3 separate regions of the Homo sapiens genome follow, and all the other regions are linked to region 1. Evidence: fine-mapped expression QTL. A gene starts in region 1. Each other region holds a variant in brackets. All regions are shown on one strand. Distances are between the middles of the regions. Region 1 holds the start of SF3B1 (splicing factor 3b subunit 1). Region 2 overlaps SF3B1 (splicing factor 3b subunit 1). Region 3 has its middle 37 kb from the start of ANKRD44-DT.

Region 1 (8,183 bases):
TTCCAGACCTAAGGTAGTTTTCAGATCTAGAAATGAGTTCAGGTCATCTAATTGAAGCAGAAGCTAGGTCCCCAGGAAGGACTGTGTAACACCACAGTGTTTGTTTTGTTTTCCTTTTTTTTGTTAGTATTTGTTAATGATCCCTTAATACTTCTCCAAAGGGAACTATCATTTGCTCTGGTAACTATACACTGGGAAAAGTGGAATAACCAAATATTTTAAGACCTGTGGGACACAAGGTCCAAATCGACATTGTTATCCAAAGTGTCATAATATCCTATCAGAGTGGGTGTATGTAGGGGCCAGATCACACATGAAGTTCTGACCCAGGTTTGGCTCACGGTGGCAAGAACCCACCACATCTTATTTCCCAAGTTCTCGAAGTTGGTTAAGGGGCTCCTGCCTGTAATCCCAGCACTTTGAGAGGCCCAGATGGGAAGATCGCTTGAGGCTAGGTGTTCGAGATTAGCCTGGGCAATATAGCAAGACCCTGTCTCTACAAAAAATTTAAAAAGTAGGCAGGTGAGATGGCTCACGCCTGTAATCCCAGCACTTTGGGAGGTCGATGTGGGTGGGTCACTTGAGGCCAGGAGTTCAAGACCAGCTTGGCCAACATGGCAAAGCCCTGTCTCTACTGAAAATAAAAAATTAGCTGGGTGTAGTGGCACACATCTGTGGTCCCAGCTACTAGGGAGGCAGAGGTTACAGTGAGCTGAGATTACGCCACTGCACTCCAGCTTGGGTGAAAGAGTAAGACTCTGTCTCAAAAAAAAAAAATTAAAAAGTAGCTGGGCATGGTGGTGTGCACCTGTAATCCTAGCTACTCAGGAGGCTGAGTTGGGAGGATCGCCAGAGCCCAGGAGTTTGAGGCTGGAGTGAGCCACTGCACTACAGCTGGGGCAACAGAGCAAGACCCCATTTCTAAAAACAAAGCAAAACTAAACTGAACTAAAGTGGGCCTGTGGGATAAGAACTATCACATTGGGATTTATTAGGGAAACTGGCTCCTGCAATTTTGGAGACTAAGTCCCTTGACAGGCCATCTGCAAACTAGAGGCCCTGAGATGCTGGTAGCTCAGTCCAAGTCCCAAGGTTTAGAATCAGCGAAGACAATGATGTAACTCAGTCCAAGGACAAAGGCCTGAGAACCAGGAGGAAGGGGTGGGGATAGGGTGCTGCTGGTGTAAATCCAGGATTCCAAAGGCTGAGCAGCTTGGGGTCGTTGTCCAAAAACAACAATAGAGGAAGATTGGATGTAGCCAGCCTTCGCACATAAATTGACATTTTCACCTTTTCTCTGCTTCTGTTCTTCCTGGGGTCCCCAGCAGACTGGATGGTACCTGGCCACACGGAGGGCCGATCTTCCCCACCTAGCCCACTTGTACTCACACGCTAATCTCTGGAAACACCCATACAGACACACCACAAAATAGCTTTACCAGGTTTCTAGGTATTCCTTAATCCAGTCAAGTTGACACTTAAAATTAACCATCACATCTTTTTTTCTTTTTTTTTTTTGAGACGGAGTCTCGCTCTGTTGCCCAGGCTGGAGTGCAGTGGCACTATCTCCGCTCACTGCAAACTCCGCCTCCTGGGTTCAAGCGATTCTCTTGCCTCAGCCTCCTGAGTAGCTGGGATTATAGGCAGGTGCCACCATGCCCGGCTAATTTTTGTATTTTTAGTAGAGATGGGGTTTCACTGTGTTGGTCAGGCTAGTTTTGAACTCCTGACCTTGTGATCCGCCTGCCTCAGCCTCCCAAAGTGCTGGGATTACAGGCATGAGCCACCACGCCTGGCCAAAAATTTTAATTTATCAAATTTATTCCTTTACTGATGCTAATAAAAATCTGTGGTGGCTCACGCCTATAATCCCAGCACTTTAGGAGTCTGAGGCAGGAGGACTGCTTGAGGCCAAGAGTTTGAGACCAGCCTGGGGAATATAGTAAGATCTCATTCTACAAAAAATAAAAATTAGCTGGGTATGGTGGCCCATGTTGGTGGTACTAGCTACTCTGGAGACTGAGGCAGGAGAGTCTCTTGAACCTTAAGGTCGAAGTTAGGGTCAGCTGTGATCGCACCACTGCCCTCCAGCTTGGGCAACAAACCAAGACTGTGTGTCAAAAAAACAGAAAAAAAATCGTTTGTGTCACCTGATCTGAAGAAGGGAGGGAGTCTGGTGAGAGGGAAAGAGGGAGCAAGGCTGCAGGTCAGGAGTCACCAGGGACAGGTTATCTAAGCTCTCAGTCCAGTGCCATTGTCCATATATCTCCCACCTACCGCTAGCCTCAGGAAAATGGCTCCTCACTTTACCCAAAGTAGATATGGGGTCTTCCTGCAAGAGGAATACACCCATACCATTTCCCTCCCTTCAAACGACCATACTGACCCATGGTATGGTTAGTATTTGGGTTGCAGGTTTATCACATAGCGAGGTACTCCTCTCTTTGTGATGGCTCTAACCTTGATAACTACCTGTTTTCCTCGGCTGCTTCCGGGACCCATCTTTCTGAGCCTTTCTTTCTTTTTCATCGTCGAAGTCAAAGACCAGTGTGACAGTACAAGGTTATATTATAATTGATGCCCAGGAAAACAGACTGCCGTATTCTGATCTATTAAAATTCCTGATTTAGGAATACCGTCTAGGATTTAAGAGAAACATCTAATGAATGTTAATAATGACGATGAGTGGTTTTCTAGGAACCCATAAAGTAAAAGGCTTTAAAAGGGTGGCAAGATTGTCACTGTGCAACTCAGCAACGATTTGTGAGGCTCAACGAAATTCCTACCCAAATTATTTGCAATTATTAAACAGAAAGAATGAAAAATGACCTTGAATTACAGGGCGAAAGATGGGACTGTTAAGACTGTCTTCGTAACTAAGCACTGTAAAGACTGAGACAGCTGCAAGGGAAAGTTTTCCTCGAGCTCTTCCAGTGAATTTTGGGAAAAGGGATTGAATGTCTGAGGTCTCTTCCAGCTCTGAAACCGCAGCGTTTCGTACAGTGTTCATTTTTTTTTAATGGGAGGGGTCTCGGGGTCTTGCTCTGTCGCCCGGTCTGGAGGCTTGAGTACAGTGGCGCGACACGATTACGGCTCACGGCTGCCTCGAACTCCTGGGCTCAAGCGATGCTCCCGCCTCAGCCTCCAGAGTTGCTGGGACTCAGTGTCTGTTCTTAACTCCCTTCGTAGAATCCACTTTCCTCCAGGGCAAAGTTACTCACTTAAGGACCTTACGGCTCGGCTCGGGGATTTCCTGGGTCACCACGCAGGCGACTTCAGGGCCCAACCGTGTCTCCTCCCCCACCCACAATGCACCTCGCGGTTCCCTCTAGGTGGCAGTTCTGTCACGTGTCACCCGACGGAGCGCGCTCCCGTTTGGCGCACGCGCAGAGTGCAGCCCCCAGCTATTTTTCTCCGTGGCGGCGGCGACGAGCGGAAGTTCTTGGGAGCGCCAGTTCCGTCTGTGTGTTCGAGTGGACAAAATGGCGAAGATCGCCAAGACTCACGAAGGTAAGCGGTCTTTCCCTGCTTACGTGTTTTCTTCGTTGCTAGCCTAATAAAAGCCTTTTTTCCTAGGATTCTGCCTTTTTCTATGGTTTCTTTCGTAGGAGCTGAGCCCGCGTTTCGGGGCCAAGGGTCGTCTCCTCCGCGCCAGCGGCGCAGGCCACTGCCCCGCGTAATGGCGTCCTCCTCTTACACCCCCGACAGGCGCTTTGTTCAGTGTTTGGGACCTGCTACTTCAGAGTAGCTTCTCTTCTCTGACCAGAGGGCCTCGTTTAAGCGGCTTCCTCAGTAGGATTCGTGGGCAAGGGATCGGGGAAGCGGGCGTGGGGAGAAGGTCTCACTCGCCTCTCGACACTGTCGTCCCCATAGTTTGTGCAGAAGAGGGTCAGAAAAGCACTGAAATACGGCAGCCGCTTTTCCGGCAGACTGAATCGAATTTGGTTAAACCGAGATTCCGTTACTCCTACCCTTGTGTGTCTTCAAGCGTCAGTTACTTGTTTATTTTTCTTGCACGAAACGATTTGGGGATAAAATCTGGTAGTTGTTTTCCCTCCCTTAGTCACTTTTAGTATAATATTGATCTTTTTCTTTGGAGACTGGTTATTGGAGGAGCAGATGGAAGAGGAAAACATAAATTACTTTCATTAATGGCCGAAGCTTTCAAGCTAGTTGATCGTTTTATGGAATACAGAGTGTGCAAATTAGGAAAACGTTGGGAATAGACTGGAGTTCATTAGGAAGTATCCAGAGATGACAGAAAATGGGATCACTTTTCAGAAAAGACGAGGCATGAGAAGTTGGAACTGCATTCTTTGATTTCTGACTTGGAATCCGAGATTTTCACTGAGAACGAGACTTCTAAGTCACTTTTGTTTCATATGTTCTTTCTGGGTATTTGGCTCGGTATTAGTCTGTGAGAGGTAAGAGACTGAGGCCATCCAAAATTTTACAGTCTGATAGGAGAAACAGATGTGTATGTTCTCATTCTCTCATGAGGCCAGATGCATGCTTAAGTAGAAGAAAAAGCAGCATGTTCTGGGAACCTGGGTAACGGAATGATTATGTTTAGGGTTGTTTCACTGAGGAGGTTACATGACCGTGTTTTAAAAGGATCAGTCAGTTTTAAATCGGGAAGGACATCTGAGCCTGAGAACATCTTGTAACAAGGTATTGAATCGTGAAAGGTGTGTTTGAGTAGTAGTCCACTGTAGCAGGAACAGAGGGTGCAAGTAGAGAAGAAATAAATGAATCTGGAAAGGTTGGATTAGGACCAGAATGTGAATGGCTTTGAATAGTTGGGTCACCCAGAGGACCTGAAGTCCAGCTTTCTGCTATTTATCAAACATGCTAATGAATTGTCAATGACTTTAATATTAGTATACCATTTTAGGTATTTAGGATTTAAATGCTCTCTTAGTATTCCTAGGCTTTATTATTTTGTCTTTAGACTATCTCAAATATAACCTTTTGCAAAGTAAGTAGAAAATATAAAGTTGTGCTGTTTTTGTTCATTCAGGATGTTATTCATTTGGGGATATTGATAGTATAGCTTTGATACTTATTTATTGGTAACTTCAGTATAAGATGCCCTCAGACAGGAAAATCAGAATTCTGATCAGTTTTCCTGAATTTTTTAGAAACCCAGCTAAAAACTTTGGTCTATTGCTATTCATTGGCCAAACTTGTTATTTTTGAGATTATTCTATCAATGTGAATTAAGTGATACCATAAGAAAATAGCAGAACATTCAATACTTGAGCACTGTCTGTGCCCATCCCTATGGGATATGTCAGGGGATGATAAATGTTTAGTAGAAATACACATAATACTGACATAGCTTGTTGCTTCCTTCCTAATGGAACTCTAGTTCTTCATGGTCCATCACTGTTTTCTCTTGTTAAGCCATTTTTGATAAACTGAAGCAGAATTAATGCTTTTTGGGGCAGTGCTGCTATAGTACTCAGTATAAATGTTATATTGCTTAGAATAGTCTGTTGTGTTAAGATTTTCTCTTCTCCTTAGCTCCAAGATTGAGATAAACTGATAACTATTTATTTATTTTGCTGTCATATTCCTTTCAAACATTTCTTTTTTTATTTTTTATTTTTTTTTGAGATAGGGTCTTTTTCTGTTGCCCAGGCAGAAGTGCAGTGGTGCAATCTCGGCTCACAGCAACCTCCGCCTTTTAGGTTCAAGCGATTGTCCTGCTTCAGCCTCCTGAGTACTAGTATCGCAGGCATGTGCCACCACACCCGACTAATTTTTGTATTTTTAGAGACAGGGTTTCGCCATGTTGGCCAGGCTGGTCTCAAACTCCTGACCACAAGTGATCCTCCCACCTTGGCCTCCCAAAGTGCTGGGATTACTGGCATGAGCCACCATGCCTGAACCCTTTCAAACATTTCTATTAGGATCAGGCCTCACATCCTCTTTAACCAATCTGATTATATTTTACCCTGGCCAATGTGGCTTATGCTTTCCAGGATTGAAATATAAAAAGAACTGGAATTACTCAAATCAGATAAAATCTTTTAGATCTTTCCACGTATTATGTCAGGTGTATGGTTATGAATATGCATAATCTTGCCATCCAGCAGTTCTTCAGATACTGCTGACTTTGGCATACAAACAGGGAACACACATTATTCTCTGTTTTGTAAGGGGAAAATGGTTTAACCAAAAATCCTACATATCAGCTTGTTTTGCCACTAATCCTTTGAATTAGATTTTTTGGGACATCACAAAGCTGAAAAAGTTTTTTCCCTAATTCTTTGCTTGATAAATGGCTGGAATAGTTATAGTTTTGTTATTGTGTATCTTGCTGATCTATATATTTTTTCCTGTGTTTATTTTTGAGACCGGGTCTTGCCCTGTTGCCCAGGTTGGAGTGCAGTGGCGTGATCATAGCTCACTTAACCTACAACTGCTGGGCTCAAGTGATCCTCCCATTTCAGCCTCCTGAGTAGCTACAACTACAGGCGTGTGCTACCATGCCTGGCTAATTTTTACAATTTTTTTTTAGAGATGGGGTCTCGCTATGTTACCCAGGCTGATCTCGAACTCCTGGGCTCAAGCAGTCCTGCCTTGGCCTCCCACCGTGCTAGGATTACAGGTGTGAGCCACGATGCCTGGCCTTGAAATTTTTTTTAATAGAATTAATCATTTAGGAATCAATTTATCAGTATTGTTTGTAGTGTTCAGTAAAATGATTTATATTATAGTTAGTTGTCCTATTGGAGTTTTGTTTAATGAAAAAGCTGAGGGTTGGGATTCAGAATATACTTCCTGTTTTTCTGTGATGTCTTTTAGAAGCCTTGTATTTTGGAAATAGTTGTTCACCGGTTATATCTGGCTGAAGGAGAGTAGATATCACTTAGGGACCAGACTGAAAGGTGTAGGTGAGACATTAACATCTGAGGGCAGTATCTGTGTAACATGTAATGAGCAGTGATTAGAACACTGAAAATAATTCAGACGAAAAATGAAAAATAAAAATCAAGGAGGAAGAAGTGCTACAAGTTGGGTTTAGCAGGATCTAAGGCTTAGAAAGAAGAAAAGGGCTGGGCATGGTGTCTCACACCTATAATCCCAGCACTTTGGGAGGCTGAGGTGGGCAGATCACCCAAGGTTAGGAGTTCCAGACCAGCCTGGCCAACGTGGTGAAACCCCCTCTCTACTAAAAGTACAAAAAAATTAACCGGGCATGGTGGCGTGAGCCTGTGATCCCAGCTCCTCGGGAGGCTGTTGCAGGAGAATCGCTTGAACCCAGGAGGCGAAGGTTGCAGTGAGCTGAGATCACGCCACGCCACTGCACTCCAGCCTGGGCGACTGAGTGAAACTCTGTCTCAAAAAAAAAAAAAAAAAAAAAAAAAAGAAGAAAAGGCACAGGAGGGGAAATCAGAGGGACAGAATTGGTGGGGAGCAGTTAAATAGTTTTATCAGATGTGACCTTCTGCTATCAGTGATATGAATTGTTTTTCTCAAGAGCTTGATATGTAGGTCTGAGTTTTAAAATACAGGAGGCCAGGGGTTGCTCACGCATGTAATCCCAGCATTTTGGGAAGTCAAGACAGGAGGATTGCTTGAGACTGCAAACATACAGAAAAGTAGAGAGCGGCTGGCGCTATACTCCAGCCTGGGCAACAGAGCAGGACTCTGTCTCAGAAAAACAAAACAACAGGCCGGGCACAGTGTGTGAAGACAGGTTTTAATAACACTAGGGTAGGCTGGGCACGGTGGCTTACGCCTGTAATCCCAGCACTTTGGGAGGCTGATGTGGATGGATCACCAGAGGTCAGGAGTTTGAGACCAGCTTGATCAACATGGTGAAACCCTATCTCTACTAAAAATAAAAAAATTAGCTGGGTTTGGTGGTGCGTGCCTGTAATCCCACCTGCTTGGGAGCCTCAGGCAGGAGAATCTCTTGAACCAGGAGGTGGAGGTTGCAGTGAGCCGAGATCGTGCCACTGCACTTCAGTTTGGGCAACAGAGTGAGACTTTGTCTCAAAACAAAATAACAAAAAAAACTACCGTGAGTAGTAAAATGAACCCCTCATATACTCATCACCTAGCTTCAACAGTTACAAGCTTAGGCCAGCTTTGTTTAATTTGTACACTGGTCACTTCTACTCTTCCCATTATTTTGAAGCAGATCTTAGACATACCACTTTATCCATAAA
Region 2 (8,183 bases), 35 kb after region 1:
CCAGAGTAATTTGGATGGAAATGAACTCATGCTGTCTATGTAAAATGTGTGTAAAAGTAAACACTAAAATATTAAAGTATGGAAAATCTTCTTTGAGTAATTTGCTCATTCAAAATGTTTGATTATAAAGAAACCACACCTATTACTCTGCTCTTTTTCCCAGGCTGCATTGCGTCAGATTACTGATAAAGCTCGTGAATTTGGAGCTGGTCCTTTGTTTAATCAGATTCTTCCTCTGCTGATGTCTCCTACACTTGAGGATCAAGAGCGTCATTTACTTGTGAAAGTTATTGATAGGATACTGTACAAACTTGATGACTTAGTTCGTCCATATGTGCATAAGGTTTGTTCTCCTTAATAGTGTTTCTGATAGTTTAAAGTTTTAACTTTTTCAGTTAATCAATGTTAAATTTACATATTCTCCTAGACCTTTTCCTTTGCACAAGTACACACCATACATGTACAAATACAGTTTTATACAGATGTACAGATGTTAGTTTTTGTCATCTTTGCCGTAAGAGGTTCATATTATTTAATTTTTTCATTTGCTTTTATTAAAATTAGATTAGGATGAGAACATATGAGAACTAACGCCAGTTAGTATTAAGAACCAGTTTTTTCACCGATGGTAATTATGGTGCAGTATGTTCATAGGGTGTATAAGTTATTTCTTTAAAAAATATTGAATATTAGTGTGTCACTAATAGCTCTCTTAAATTTTCATCTCTGTCTGGAGTTTGAACTTGTATAATTAAAATTCTTAAACAGTTCGTCCCTTGATTAACAAAAGTCCTGATAATTCTAAATTTCTTATGTATGTTTAATTCTGTACATGAGCATTTCATCAGTAATTGATGTGAAAGTGTAGCTTCTTCTCTTTTCTCTTTTTCAGATCCTCGTGGTCATTGAACCGCTATTGATTGATGAAGATTACTATGCTAGAGTGGAAGGCCGAGAGATCATTTCTAATTTGGCAAAGGTATTTACATTTAATTTCTAGAGAAGAAAATTTATATCTGTTTATGGAATTGATTATGGAAAGAAATGGTTGAAGATTAATATTACCAACTCATGACTGTCCTTTCTTTGTTTACATTTTAGGCTGCTGGTCTGGCTACTATGATCTCTACCATGAGACCTGATATAGATAACATGGATGAGTATGTCCGTAACACAACAGCTAGAGCTTTTGCTGTTGTAGCCTCTGCCCTGGGCATTCCTTCTTTATTGCCCTTCTTAAAAGCTGTGTGCAAAAGCAAGAAGTCCTGGCAAGCGAGACACACTGGTATTAAGATTGTACAACAGATAGCTATTCTTATGGGCTGTGCCATCTTGCCACATCTTAGAAGTTTAGTTGAAATCATTGAACATGGTAAGTTGTAATGTAACTTTGTCTTTTTTTTTTTTTCTTTAGGAGACAGGGTCTTACTATGTTGCCCAGACTGGACTCAAACCTTTGGGCTCAAGTGATCCTCCTGCTCAGCCTCCTTAGTAGTTGGGACTAGAGGTACACACACAGCCTGTCCATGTTTAATAGGACAGCTGTCCTAAAATTTGGGCTACTGATTTGGGGAGATAAATGGAAAGGCATAGCTCTACAAACTATAGATTTTATGATGGGTTTGTTATATTATCTGCTGACAGGCTATGGTTCATGTTTTGCTTTTACCTAATTTTGTTTAATGTGAACATATTCTGCAGTTTGGCTGAATAGTTGATATATTGAGAGAATCTGGATGATATTGTGTAACTTAGGTAATGTTGGGGCATAGTTAAAACCTGTGTTTGGTTTTGTAGGTCTTGTGGATGAGCAGCAGAAAGTTCGGACCATCAGTGCTTTGGCCATTGCTGCCTTGGCTGAAGCAGCAACTCCTTATGGTATCGAATCTTTTGATTCTGTGTTAAAGCCTTTATGGAAGGGTATCCGCCAACACAGAGGAAAGGTAAATCCACCAATTACCTTTTGATTTATCTTCATTAAAGTTAAGGCGACATAAATCTAAATTACTAAAGTACATATATTTTTTATTTAAAAATAGGGTTTGGCTGCTTTCTTGAAGGCTATTGGGTATCTTATTCCTCTTATGGATGCAGAATATGCCAACTACTATACTAGAGAAGTGATGTTAATCCTTATTCGAGAATTCCAGTCTCCTGATGAGGAAATGAAAAAAATTGTGCTGAAGGTAATTATTCCAGATTTGTTAATGTAAACTGGATATGTTTCATGGTTCTAACAGAATTTTAAAGTGTTTTTAAAAATCAACAAAAAAAACTGTATGTTACACGAATACTGTTTGATTTGTTTTTAAATTTTATTTTTTAAAATCACGTAATCAGCAATGAGTATTCTCTTCATTTCAGGTCAGTTGATTTATTATTACTATTTCTTAACCTTTTAGGTGGTAAAACAGTGTTGTGGGACAGATGGTGTAGAAGCAAACTACATTAAAACAGAGATTCTTCCTCCCTTTTTTAAACACTTCTGGCAGCACAGGATGGCTTTGGATAGAAGAAATTACCGACAGGTAAGCTTTTATTGTAAAAGAATATTCTCAAAAGTCCTTTCAACTCATTCTTTAGTCAACTTGAATGCATGTTGTATATTATTTTTTGCCTTGATTATCTCACAGTTTATATGTGCTTGATTATGAAAGGAGATGGATTTTAGTCAGCCAGTTAACTTCCATTTTGATTTTGGATTCGAGGATTAATACTTAACTGTGAATTGATGTTTTTGTCTGGTACATTCAGTGCTTTATCTGGCTAGATGAAACATGGACACAGTTTTACCTTGAATCATGTTAACTTATACTCATTTTTCGATGTTTGGTCACTTTTCTCTTCAACTTTAATAAGTAGCAATGAATCATTCTTACCATGTTTATTAGCTAAATAAGTAGTATATTTAGAGTATTTGGTTTTCATGATGTTGCTTTATTTCCTTGGAAAAGCAGTCTAAAAGGTTTTTTGTTTTTCTGTTCTTTTTAGTTAGTTGATACTACTGTGGAGTTGGCAAACAAAGTAGGTGCAGCAGAAATTATATCCAGGATTGTGGATGATCTGAAAGATGAAGCCGAACAGTACAGAAAAATGGTGATGGAGACAATTGAGAAAATTATGGGTAATTTGGGAGCAGCAGATATTGATCATAAACTTGAAGAACAACTGATTGATGGTATTCTTTATGCTTTCCAAGAACAGACTACAGAGGTAATGAAAACTATTATGGCACATTGCTACTAACTTTAATATTTGTAGAAAAGCATATTAGTTGTCAAGCAAATTTTTCTAGAATGCA[A/G]TTGAATTTGAAGTAATTTTTAAAATGCTCAGGGGGTTACCAAACGATATTATTCTACCTCAAGTTTTAAGATTTGATGTAAAAAAACAGCAACAGATGTTTGGGTGGTTAGAAAAGGTTGACTCTTAGTGTATTTCAACTGTGCAGTCATAAACCAAATGAATATGTCTTTTTTTTAAATTTATTTTTTAGGACTCAGTAATGTTGAACGGCTTTGGCACAGTGGTTAATGCTCTTGGCAAACGAGTCAAACCATACTTGCCTCAGATCTGTGGTACAGTTTTGTGGCGTTTAAATAACAAATCTGCTAAAGTTAGGCAACAGGCAGCTGACTTGATTTCTCGAACTGCTGTTGTCATGAAGACTTGTCAAGAGGTAAACTTTTGCATCAAATTCTTACTTCTTCCCCAAATAGTTTAATGTAAATAGTAACATTTTAACATTATTTGTTTTATTATAGGAAAAATTGATGGGACACTTGGGTGTTGTATTGTATGAGTATTTGGGTGAAGAGTACCCTGAAGTATTGGGCAGCATTCTTGGAGCACTGAAGGCCATTGTAAATGTCATAGGTATGGAATTTGCTGGTTACATAAGACTTTTTCTTGTTTTAACTTTCTTTTTCTTTTTTTTTTCGTAAGTAAAATCTTATTTAGGAGTTGGGAGGTTTTTGTTAGCTTTTTAAAAGCACTTCAAGATTGTAGTTAAGTCGGGGGATGTCACAAAAGTCTTGTTTCCCAAAACCCATTTATATTTTACTTTAAAGAGAAAAAAAGGGTAAGTTTAGGACCTACATGAGAGGTGGGAGTAGTCACAGCTCAAAAAGCTTTGAAGTCATGGAATACAGGACCCTAGTAGAAATAGTGTGTCAGGTGAAATATATTCTGCCATGTTCTGCTGCGGGGTGAAAAGGCAATCCTAAAGTTTTAATTTAGTTTTAGAACAATATATATATATTTAAACCTTGAATTAGCGATTATGACAGGTTTTTTGCTTGTGATCAGTTTCAAGGAATATAATCAGAGAAAAGTGAACTGATCAAATTATTGTCTTTATTTACATACCCAAGTTTTAAATACTGTCCATTCAGTTTTCTAACCCGTAATACAGCTATATTACAAATGGTCTTGGATATGGAGAGCAAAGTTTTTATTCCATTAGGGCAGTATGAAGAAAACAAATGGTTTCTTATATTTAATCTTTTTTTTAAATTGATTATAACTGTTGCCAAATGTAACTCCTGCAGAGTTTAGAGGCTCTGATAACCTAGCAGAAGTCAAAATAGCTGACTGTGAGAGAGCCACTGTTTGTTTTTCCTCATTTTGTAAGAGGTATTTATGCGATACACATGTTTAAACTATTGTATTTGCATATAATCTCCAATGCAACCCTATCCTCTATACTTGAAGATAGCTACTTGCCAGAAATCATTTACATGGCCACTTGTAGGGCTCTGGTTTGCAGGGAGTTTTAAACCATATTGTTTGTCAGAGAGGCATGGGAAGAGCAATGGAGAGAGAATCAGAGCAAGTGATTCTAGTTAGAGCAAGAGCCCCTGCCAGCTGCCTCCTTTTTTCTCTCTTCGTAGGTGTAAATACCATCCAAGTATGCCCTGCATTGCAGGGAGACTGGAGATCTGTTTGTTTTGCAGTTAAAGGGTAAGGGGGCCCTTTCTGGAAATTTTTGCTTTATTTACATGTTTACCTCTGGCTTATATTGTTGTGTATGGCCGGAACATAAGCTGTCCCCATATTTAAATGTCAGTGCACAAATATATTTCAGAATCAAACAAAACTTTTTTGTTATTGAGTATCCATCATCCTTTAAATCACTTCACTGATTTCTTTCATTTCTATACATAATCAAAAATTGTTAATAAAAGTTAAAAACGATTCTGAGTCTGGTCAGAATCTGGGGCTTTCTCTTTCCCTAGGCAGCTGTAAGTTTATATTTATACATAGTCATATATGACATTGCTAAGTAAAAGGAAAGTGAACAAAAGTTGCAATTCAAATGTTGATAGTTTATTGACTTCTATTAAATAGGTATGCATAAGATGACTCCACCAATTAAAGATCTGCTGCCTAGACTCACCCCCATCTTAAAGAACAGACATGAAAAAGTACAAGAGAATTGTATTGATCTTGTTGGTCGTATTGCTGACAGGTAAGCAGATTACCCACACATTTTTATAAGCAGTATCAATTTTCAAATTTGGCCACTTTGTATTCAATTAGCAAAATTTCCTTAATGTCACTAATATAAGTGTAAAAGATTAGGCTATCCAGTATTAATATTTTCAGTCAAATTTCAATTTGGATGGTAATGGGGGTGGCAATGTAATTTTAGGACTAAACCTGTAAGACTAACTCTTCAGCCTTTCTGAAGAGTAGTAAGTTTTATTTAATGCTTAAAATGAGTTAATCATGTTTTTAGAACTGAATTTGCAAATTTATCCTTAAAACTTTTCTTAATGTCACAATAATTAATATGTGTATTTTTTAAATTAGGGGAGCTGAATATGTATCTGCAAGAGAGTGGATGAGGATTTGCTTTGAGCTTTTAGAGCTCTTAAAAGCCCACAAAAAGGCTATTCGTAGAGCCACAGTCAACACATTTGGTTATATTGCAAAGGCCATTGGGTGAGTGTTATTTACTTCCATTAAAAAAAAATTACTTTATAATAAATGCATTGTGGTATTGGAAAATACTTCCATGTAGAAATCTCTTTTGAGGCATGGTCTGAATAATGCAGTTGAGAAAGCTCTTCATTTAACCACTGACCTTCTGATTATTGGAATGTATTGTTAAATTCTTTTTTTTTTTTTTTGAGACGGAGTCTCGCTCTGTCACCCTGGCTGGAATGCAGTGATTCAATCTCGGCTCACTGCAACCACCGCCTCCCAGGTGCAGGCGATTCTCCTGCCTCAGCCTCCCCAGTAGCTGGGACTACAGGCATGCACCATCACGCCTAGGTAATTTTTGTATTTTTTAGTAGAGATGAGGTTTCACCATGTGGGCCAGGCTGTTCTCGAACTCCTGGCCTCAAGTGAGCCACCTATCTTGGCCTCCAAAAGTGCTGAGATTACAGGCGTGAGCCACTGCGCACAGCCTGTAGTCTTAAATTCTTAATTAAAATAGATGGAAGGGTTTAAGACTTACTTTAATTACACTTTAGGTGTTTTCAGGGAGGGAAACAGTACCATTTTCAGAAAAATTTAAAATGTGTGCTGGTCTTCTAGGATATTGCTTAAACTATTAAGGCAAGTTTTTAGTCTCACAACATCATTTAAGTCTCATATTAATGCTTTATATGTTTTAAAAATCTTATTATGGATTGTTTGAGCCCAGGAGTTCAAGGTTACAGTGAGCTGTGATTGTGCCACTGCACTCCAACCTGGGCATCTGGGCACCTGGGCGACAGGGCGAGACCCTGTCTCTAAAAAAAACAACAAAAATGCTATTCTAACATTACTCCACGGATTTAACTGAATTATAGCTGCTTTGTGAGATAATCTGTGGTGGTTTGCTTCCACTCCATCACAACTAAAATAGGAAAAAACAGTCATTGTAGAAAACGAGACACCACATGTCCATGTGGCTTAAGAAAATGTTTTCAAGGAATATGACATGTGAATGTCTGATTAATTAGGTAGAATTATACCAGACAACACCCCCTCCCCTAACACATACTCATTCCTCTCCTATTTTGGTAGCATAATATTTATTTCAGTGGTGATGGAGTCAAGACATTTGCAAGAATAGCTTTTGTGCAAGCTTTTAGCCCCAATGTCCCTCTAAGTTTATGTCAAAGAAGAGGCAAATAGATGCAGCAAATTGTGTGGAGGAAAGATAAAAGGAAAAGAGATTTTATATGGTTTATAATGGGAGACTACAATTCGGATATTCCCCTCACCACTCCTACCTAGTTCTAGTGCCCATTTTGACAACTCAGAGAATTACTCACTTTAAACATTTAGTTAAATTTCTTTATATTTCAGAAAGTTTAAGAACTGAAAATTACATTTGAAAATTGAGTTAACTTAAAATGTTTAGAATTTGTACAGCTATGACCTCTGATCTTCTCAGAGTCAACTTTTTTAAACTGACCTTTTAATTTATATGAAATTTTTATATAGAAACAACAATGCCAGTGACTTGAAAGTATTGCATTTTATAAAATTACTGAGTTCCCTGTAATTATTAATACTTAAAAGTTTTCATCTTTATGCATTTTTTTCTTCCATAAATTTTTGACTTATAATGTAACAGCTTGTTGACCCATTTGTTTTTTTCAGCCCTCATGATGTATTGGCTACACTTCTGAACAACCTCAAAGTTCAAGAAAGGCAGAACAGAGTTTGTACCACTGTAGCAATAGCTATTGTTGCAGAAACATGTTCACCCTTTACAGTACTCCCTGCCTTAATGAATGAATACAGAGTTCCTGAACTGAATGTTCAAAATGGAGTGTTAAAATCGCTTTCCTTCTTGTTTGAATATATTGGTGAAATGGGAAAAGACTACATTTATGCCGTAACACCGTTACTTGAAGATGCTTTAATGGATAGGTAAGTGACTTGAACTAAATACAAGAAAATAATTATAACTCTTCCTTCATTTTAGAACATCGTGAAATAGTTATTAGATGACTTTTTACTGTAACATAGTTAAAGAAAAAATTGCTAGCCTGGAGTCTTAGGACATTGTAAATATGACTTATTATTTTAAAATAATGTGCACGCTGTAGTGATTCCCCAGACTTTCTTTCAAGTTCTCCCATCCCCTTTAAATCTCTTTTCTTATCTATTGAATTAAATAAATTTTGAAAAGGGTTGATTGATAATCTTTTGTTTTCAAAATTGGTCAAATATAGTTAGAG
Region 3 (8,183 bases), 87 kb after region 1:
TTATTGCTTGAATTGTCTTCCTTAAGGCAACACTTCACCCCATTCTGGATTTGTTCTCTCTCTGTTTCATTGCTGTTCAAAATCTGAAGCACAAAGTCCTGCATCAAGGGCAGTAAGTGATTAATAGAGTTATTTCTGGCAAGCCCAGGCTCAAGTTAGGCTCTGAAAGATGATTTCAGATGTGGATATTGGGGGCAGTGGTACTCTGGGTAGGATTTGAAGGTGGTGTGTGTGGGCAACAGCAAGGTGATTCCCCATTCCCTCAACCACCAGCACTCAAAACCTGGAGACTCAAAGTCATATTTCCCAACTGGACTCATCTCGATCCTGTTCTCTCTGGCTTTCTGTGCTCCAGAGGCTCAGACATCTTTCAATGTCTCAAATCTGTGCAGCTCCCTCACACTACAGGGATTTTGGACATGCTCTTCCCTCTGCCTGTGACCCCCTTTGTGTCTCTGCCACTTTCTTTTCCTTTCTTTTTTTTTTTCTTGAGATGGAGTCTCGGTGTCTCACTCTCTTGCCCAGGCTGCAGTGCAGTGGCACAATCTCGGCTCACTGCAACCTCAGCCTCCAGGGTTCAAGTGATTCTCCTGCCTCAGACTCTCAAGTAGCTAGGATTACAGGCATGAGTCAACATGCTCGGCTAAATTTTGTATTTTTTTAGTAGAGGTGGGGTTTCACCATGTTGGCTGGTCTTGACCTCCTGATCTCAAGTGATCCACCTGCCTTGGCCTCCCAAAGTGCTGGGATTACAGGCATGAGCCACTGCTCCCGGCCTCTGCCACTCCCTTCTATTCTACTTGTTTTCCTCTCAGATATCTGTTTAACTTCATGAATACCCTTCCTGATTCCCAGTAAGAAAGGTCAAATTCCCCTATTATGACTCATAATGATTGTAGTTTTATTTTATTTTTTTGTCTTGGCACCTCTATGATTGTAATTTTAGATTAGTTATGTGATTCAATGATTAGTTTCCATCTCCTACTCTGGAATGTAAACTCGTTGAGGGCAGGAACTATGTCCATTATTTTTTCACCTTTGCCGAGTGCCTTACAAAGAGTAGGCACTCAGCTAACAGTTGTTTAATTTTCTCTCACTTGCTAATTAGCTAACACATAACTGAACAGGGTAAAGACCTGCAAATTCCCATTTTTAGAGAGATAATGTTCAAACAAGAGCTACTTGATCCAGGACTGCTCAGAATTTGAGAGGCCTCAGTTATTCCTACTTATTGAAGGAAAAGAAGACATGCAAAACAGACTTTTTTTTTTTTTTTTTTTGAGATGGAATCTTACTCTGTCGCCCAGTGGCACAATCTCAGCTCACTGCAAGCTCCGCCTCCCGGTTTCACGCCATTCTCCTCCCTCAGCCTCCCGAGTAGCTGGGACTACAGGTGCCCGCCACCATGCCCAGATAACTTTCTGTGTTTTTTGTACAGATGGGGTTTCACTGTGTTAACCAGGATGGTCTTGATCTCCTGACCTTGTGATCTGCCCACCTCGGCCTTCCAAAGTGCTGGGATTACAGGCGTGAGCCACTGCGCCTGGCCCACAAAACAGACTTTTAAAATTGTGCTATTCTAAATGTTTACATTGAGGTAATTAACACTAATATATAACACATACTACAATATAATTGTGTTACAAGATAATTATGGGATTTGTGAAATTAGTCTTTCATAGTGCACCCAGGCAATGTGGACTGTTATTGGAGTTCAAGCATAAATGTGTACGATGCATGTCATTCTTCAATTGCATTATTGTATCTCTTGGCTCTCTGGGTAGCCTGCTATAACAGAGGCCCTTTGTGAAAGAGATGTTGTCTTAGTCAGTTTGGACTTTGGTAACAAAGTACCCTAAACTGGGTGGCTATAAACAATATAAATTTATTTCTCACAGTTTTGGATGCTGGAAGTCTAAGATCAGATTGCCAGTATGGTTGGGTTCGGATGAAGGTCTTCTCTTCTGGGTTGCAGACTGCAGACTTCTGGTTGTCTCCTCACCTGGTAGAAAGAGGGTGAGAGAGTTGTCTAGGGTATCTTTTACAAGGGCACTAATCTCATTCACCAGGGCTCTATCCTCATGGCTTATTCTCCTACCAGAGGCCACACCTCCTAATACACTCAAATTGGTTGTTAGGATTTCAACAGGTGAATTTTGGGGAACCACAAACACCCAGTCCATTTCAGATGCCCAAGCCATTTCTCTACTGTCTACTTCCATCCCATGATAGGGCCTACCTTGACCAACGATATTAATCTAGCCAAAAAAAGAGCCAGGTAGAAGGAGATTTGCTCAGTCTTGGAAAAGGGAGAGAAAGACTGTCTTAGTCCATTTTGTGTTGCCATAAAAGAATACCTGAGACTGGGTAATTTTTTTTTTAAGAGTTTTATTTAGCACATAGTTAGGTAGGCTGGGAAGCTCAAGAGCATGGCCCTGGCTTCTGGCAAAGGCTTTTGTGCTGCACAACGTGGCAGAGAAGGTCAAAGGGGAAGTGGACATGTGCAGAGAGCCAAACAGAAGGAGGAAACTTGCATTGTAACCCTTGCTCTCAAGGGAACTAATTCATTACTGCAATAACTAATCTACTCTCCAGAGAGTGAGAACTTACTACCATGAGAACAGCACCAAGCTGTCTATGAAGGATCCATCCCCATGACCCAAACACTTCCACCAGGCCTCGCCTGCCAACACTGCCACAGTAGGGGTCCAATTTCAGCATCAGCTTTGGTGAGGACAACAAACCACATTCAAACCGTAGGAGAAACAGACCCTGGAAGCTCTCTCCTGCACAGCATGCACCCTGGCCTGGCAACACCCCCACCCAACTCAAGTGGCAGGTGAAGCCTGCTGAGGAGTTGGAAGTGTCAGGTGGTCACAGCTCCATTATGCCTTCAGCTCCCGTGGCCCTGAATTCAGTCTCACCAAATAACGTGATTATGATTTTTTTTTTAAAGATGGTGTCTCGCTCTGTCATCTAGGCCACTGCACAATCTTGGCTCACTGCAACCTCTGCCTCCCAGGTTCAAGCAATTCTCCTGCCTCAGCCTCCTGAGTAGCTGTGACTACAGGTATGTGTCACCATGCCCGGCTAATTTTTGTATTTTTAGTAGAGACGGGGTTTCACTATGTTGGGCAGGCTGGTCTCGAACTCCTGACCTCAAGTGATATGCCCACCTCAACCTCCCAAACTGTTGGGATTATAGGCATGAGCCATTGTGCCCGGCCACATGTGATAATAATTTGATTTCCAGTGCTGGCAGCACTGTGATCCAGGTAAACCTCTAATAATTTCCCCCCACCCACCATTTAGTGTCATGGAATATTGCTCCATAACATAATGCCACTCCCAGCATTCTTGGGAATATCTGAACCACCAGTCAGTTCTTCAGGCACAAAGTTATGTTAAAAGATTTAACAAATATAAAAAATATTGTATAACACATACTCCAAAAGTATAGGTAGTTATATTGCACATGGACTATGGGAATTGCTGGGTTAACTTCAGTCTTTAAAGTCAGTTCACATCACTCATCTTTTATCCTTTTCCTTGTAGAGAAATGAGGAAACCTTAGATACACTTGCCTCTGTGCTTGACTGACCCAGTGCTTCCTAGGGTGCTACTGAGTGTATTGGGTGACTGAGAACAAAAGGATTAAAGTTGAATGTTCATAGCTCTCTTTTACCCTCTAAAGAGAATTTTCTCTCTCTCTCTCTCTCTCTCTCTCTCTCTCTTTTGAGACAGAGTCTCGCTCTGTCGCCTAGGCTGGAGTGTGCAGTGGTGCAATCATGGCTTACTGCAGCCTCAACTGGACTCAGGCAGTCCTCCTCCACTTCAGCCTCCCGAGTAGCTGGGACCACAGGTGTGTGCCACCATGCCTGGTTAATTTTTAATTTTTTTAAATAGAGATGGGAGTCTCACTATGTTGCCTAGTCTCGAACTCCTGGGCTCAAGTGATCCTCCTGTTTCAGCCTCCCAAAATGCTGGGATTACAGGCGTGAGCCACTGCACTTCCCCTCCGCCCCTAAGAGAATTCTGAGTCTAGCAACTCCCACTTTTCCTTTTCTCCTAAGAGCTGAGGTGGATTCTGCCTTTGCTAGGTTGCTTTCTGGGCTTTCCTGATACAGATTTGGAACAATGGTAGACAATAGATAGAACATAGAAGAAGAGATGAGTTGGAGTATTTTCATGAAAAAAGGCCAAGATTTACTCACAAGAGAGAAGAAAGGGGGAAATGAAAGGAGAGGAAAGTCTAGAGCTATGAGGGGTTTGTTTCTTTCTAAAGAATTTTATATTTGAGAGCTGAAGGTCAAGGAGAGAAAATGTGGATTTGGGAGCAAGTTCTTTTCCATATGGAGGATATTTGAAGTGGTGGAGGTTAAAGAGGGTATTTTTATAATATTGTTTTGTTTTGAGTTAAAAATACACTTTCCTGGCCTTGATGCTTTTCAAGAAAGATGATAGCAATGATTTTAATAGGTTTGAGTTGGGTTGCTGGCCTGTTTCTTTGACTGCAAACCTGCTCTGAGATTTGGCTACTTGGGTCTCCAGTTATATCTGAGCGAGAGATAAATATTGGAGTAAGGCAGTTGCTTCCTCACTGAATGGTCTTTCTTCTTTCTTCAGCCTTAGGATCTTCTTTAACGATGTGGTTAGTTTATGACCTTTGGGGGAGCCTTTGGCTTGAATATATCTCAGTTTCTTAGCCTGGGTTCTCCCCAGACCAGATCCTGAGGCAAAGATTTGAGAACAGGTAGATGATTTGGGAATGCAATCCCAGGGGAAGTCAGGCAGAGAAGGAAAGAAGCTGCTAATACATGGA[C/T]TTCGCCACTGAGACCAGCACTGGTATGGGTGACTGGTGTTCAGTCCTGGGGGACTTCTGAGGAGCTTTATGAAATACGTCTCAAAACTATCCTCTCAGGGGACAAAAGGGGAATGCATTTATCCATCAGCTCTAATCTTCTATCGGTCAAGGGTGGTCTAGTAGGCTTTAATAGTCCTGGGCTTTTGACTTGTGCCTGCCTAAGAGTGGAGCAGGTTCTCACGGACATCCCACCCTCTGGGTGTCAGAGAAGCCACAGAGCACGAGGCTGGAGGCCCCTGGTGTGGAACAGGGACAAGGTGGCCTCGGGTTGTATTTGCTCAGAGCCGGTTGCAGGCTGCCCAGAACTGGCTGCCCCAGCAGTGGCATGTAAAACATGATGTGTGCAAAAACGCAGACGGCTTGGGAGATGGCAGCGTGTCTGCTGGGACTGTAGATGTGAAGGAGAGCATAGTGGGAGGAGAATCTGAATGAGACTGTGCTGCTATGTAGGCTGAGACAAAGAATACTGGCCTCATCCTGAAAGCAATGGGGAGTCGGCAAAAACTTGATGCAAAAGAATGTCCCTGGTCTCAGTGTGCAGGATGGATGAATGGGGCTATGTATAGCATGTGGGGCTGGGGGTGGGGGTTGTTCTGGAAATTGTGAGACCTGTTAGGAGCCAGTATAGACAGTCCAGGTGAGAGTACACAGTGTGAGGATCTGAAATCAGACTGGGAGGCAGCGGTTACTGAAAGGAGGGGACAGATTTAACCCAGACCAAACAAGGAAAAGCTGGCCATGATGACAAGCCAGTGAGGTGCGTGTGACTCAGGCTGAGTAGAGCAGTCTCATTCCCTTTGGATCACAAGCTATAAGCGCACGGCCTCACAGTTAATGGCTGCCTTCTTTGCCTTATTCTCCACCATATGAGAGACTATATGCAAGCTCTTTTTTTTTTTTGAGACAGGATCTCACTCTGTCACCCAGGCTGATGTGCAGTGGTGTGATGATGGCTCACTGAACCCTCAACCCCTGGGCTCAGGTGATCCTCCCACCTCAGCCTCCCAAGTAGTTGGGACTACAGGCATGCACCACCATGCCTGGCTAATTTTTTGAATTTTTTGTAGAGATGGGATTTCACCATGTTGCCCAGGCTGGTCTCAAACTCCTGAGCTCAAGTGATCCTTCCACCTCAGCCTCCCAAAGTGCTGGGATTACAGACATGAGCCATTGTGCCCGGCCATGAGCTCCTTTTAAACACTTGGATTATTGTCTGGAATGACAATCTTTCAGTACCTAATAGTTAAGGTGCCATTGCTTTTGTTTTTGTTTTCTTCTGGTCCTGAGAGAACAAGGTCAATACACCTCAGAGAGTGAGGAAATTAATGTGTGTGTGAGCGTGTGTGCATTTGTGTGTGTGAGAGAGAGAGAGAGGAAATGAGTTAATTCTGTGGAGTTTCTGCATCCAGTCTAACCCAAGGCCTGTTCTAAACCCGACTTTCCATGGTTTGCTTATGTGACATGTAATTTACCCTTTTTAGCTTAAGCCACTTGAGTTGGGTTTCTCATAATCAAGAATCCTGACTAAAATAACATCTTTGTGTCCCAAGCTTTTTTCTACTTTTTGTTACCCAGGCTGGAGTACAGTGGTGTGATGATGGCTCGCTGAAGCCTCAACCTCCTGGGCTCAAGCGATCCTCTGACCTCAGCCTCCTGAGTAGTTGGGACTACAGGTATGCACCACCGCGCCTGGCTAATTTTTTAAATTTATTTTTTGTAGAGATGGAGTCTCACCATGTTGCCCAAGCTGATCGGGAACCCCTGGGCTCAAGTGACCCTCCTTTGGCCTCCCAAAGTGCTGGGATTTACAGACTGGAGCCACCGTGCCTAGAATATATTCTTCTACGGAAAAATAATAGGTCCAAAATTATCGCCAATTTACACCAACTCCAGAAATGTATAAGAATAACTTATTTCATCATACCCTTACAAGTACTAAGTATCAAACATTTTTTAAACCTTTATTAATTTCTTCAGAAAAAAATTATTTAACATTACTTATTTTTAATTACTGATGAGGTTGAGGCTGTTCCAATTCTACTTGTTTTGTATTTTCTTTTTGGAGAATTTTCTAATAATATCTTTTACCTATATTGGGCCTTCCATTTTTTTTTTAACAAAACCAATATATATAAAATCCTCCCTAGCTAAAAACTTGTTAATTTGCCTATCATGTTTATTTCAAATGTTTTCCTCAGTGTGGATGCTTGCCTTTAATTTAGCAGAAAATAACACAGACCTAATTTCCACTCTTTTGCCTCTATATGTTGATTACAAGCAACATTTTTTTAAAGAAACTGGCTTTTTTTTTTTTTTGAGGCAGGGTTTCACTCCCTTCACCCAGGCTGGAGTGCAGTGGTATGCTTTTGGCTCACTGCAACCTCCACCTCCTGGGCTCAAGTGATTCTCCTGCCTCAGCCTCCTGAGTAACTGGAACGCCAGGCATGTGGCATCACACCTAGCTAATTTTTGTATTTTTAGTACAGACGGGGTTTTACCATGTTGGCCAGGCTGGTCTCAAACTCCTGACCTCAAGTGATCCACCCACCTTGGCCTCCCAAAGTGCTAGGATTACCGGCGTGAGCCACTGTGCTCTGCCAGGAACTGGCTTTTAAAAATGGAAATCTCACGTGGCTGCTGTGGCAGACATGCAGGCCCTGCTCAGATCTCACTTTGAGAAGGAGCTCACATTTCAGCTGTGAGGAGTGCAATGCACTGACTGCCTGTAGATGCAAAACCTTCAGGGTCTGCCATGGCATATGGGAATGGAGACCACTCTCTTCCCAGGCAACTCCTGCTCAACAACTGAGCGTGGCAAGGGTACTAGGTCCTGGCCATCTTTGCCTAACACAGGACTCCTCTGTGAGAAATCTGTGTGTGGAGCCCCTGTTTGATGAAGTGAAATGTCCTCAGAGCTGCACTGCAGTCTGGAACTCTTCCTACCCAAGCCTCCTTCCCTCCCACTCTTCTTTCACAGTTGTCAGACAGATATTACAATCTGAAGGCTTTTTCCTGCCTCATCCTGCTCTCTCTCCTCTTCACTTTTCACAGGAACTACCCTCAGCCAACCTCCGACACCTTTATCTTCATCTTAAAAATTTTGTAAATTTACTTATTAAAAAAATTCACAATTGTGTGTGTGTGTGTGTGTGTGTACAAAATAGTACAACCTGACTGGGTGTGGTGGCTCACGCCTGTAATCCCAGCACTTTGGGAGGCCAAGGTGGGAGGATCACTTGAGTCCAGGAGTTCAAGACTAGCCTGGGCAACATGGAGAAACAGGAAAAAAAAATTTAGGCAGGGATGGTGGCACACGTCT

Evidence for each region.
Region 2: its variant is fine-mapped to the expression of SF3B1 in whole blood (TOPMed, PIP above 0.99).
Region 3: its variant is fine-mapped to the expression of SF3B1 in whole blood (INTERVAL, PIP 0.92).

Annotation. Positions count from the first base shown.
Region 1 is chr2:197,430,299-197,438,481 of GRCh38, reverse strand. SF3B1 (splicing factor 3b subunit 1) reads left to right here and starts at 3,454. Exons shown (of 25, transcript NM_012433.4): 1 at 3,454-3,510. The coding sequence starts at 3,483. RefSeq lists enhancers at 3,006-3,055, 3,076-3,385, 2,627-3,826, 3,571-4,117.
Region 2 is chr2:197,395,745-197,403,927 of GRCh38, reverse strand. It overlaps SF3B1 (splicing factor 3b subunit 1), which reads left to right. Exons shown (of 25, transcript NM_012433.4): 12 at 164-343; 13 at 893-979; 14 at 1,102-1,372; 15 at 1,798-1,943; 16 at 2,040-2,186; 17 at 2,403-2,528; 18 at 2,992-3,213; 19 at 3,494-3,676; 20 at 3,762-3,873; 21 at 5,347-5,467; 22 at 5,812-5,943; 23 at 7,600-7,872. Among named protein-coding and RNA genes, the nearest start is that of SF3B1, 35 kb to the left of the region's middle. The variant A/G (reference allele first, on the strand shown) is at 3,302.
Region 3 is chr2:197,343,495-197,351,677 of GRCh38, reverse strand. No RefSeq gene overlaps it. Among named protein-coding and RNA genes, the nearest start is that of ANKRD44-DT, 37 kb to the right of the region's middle. The variant C/T (reference allele first, on the strand shown) is at 4,823.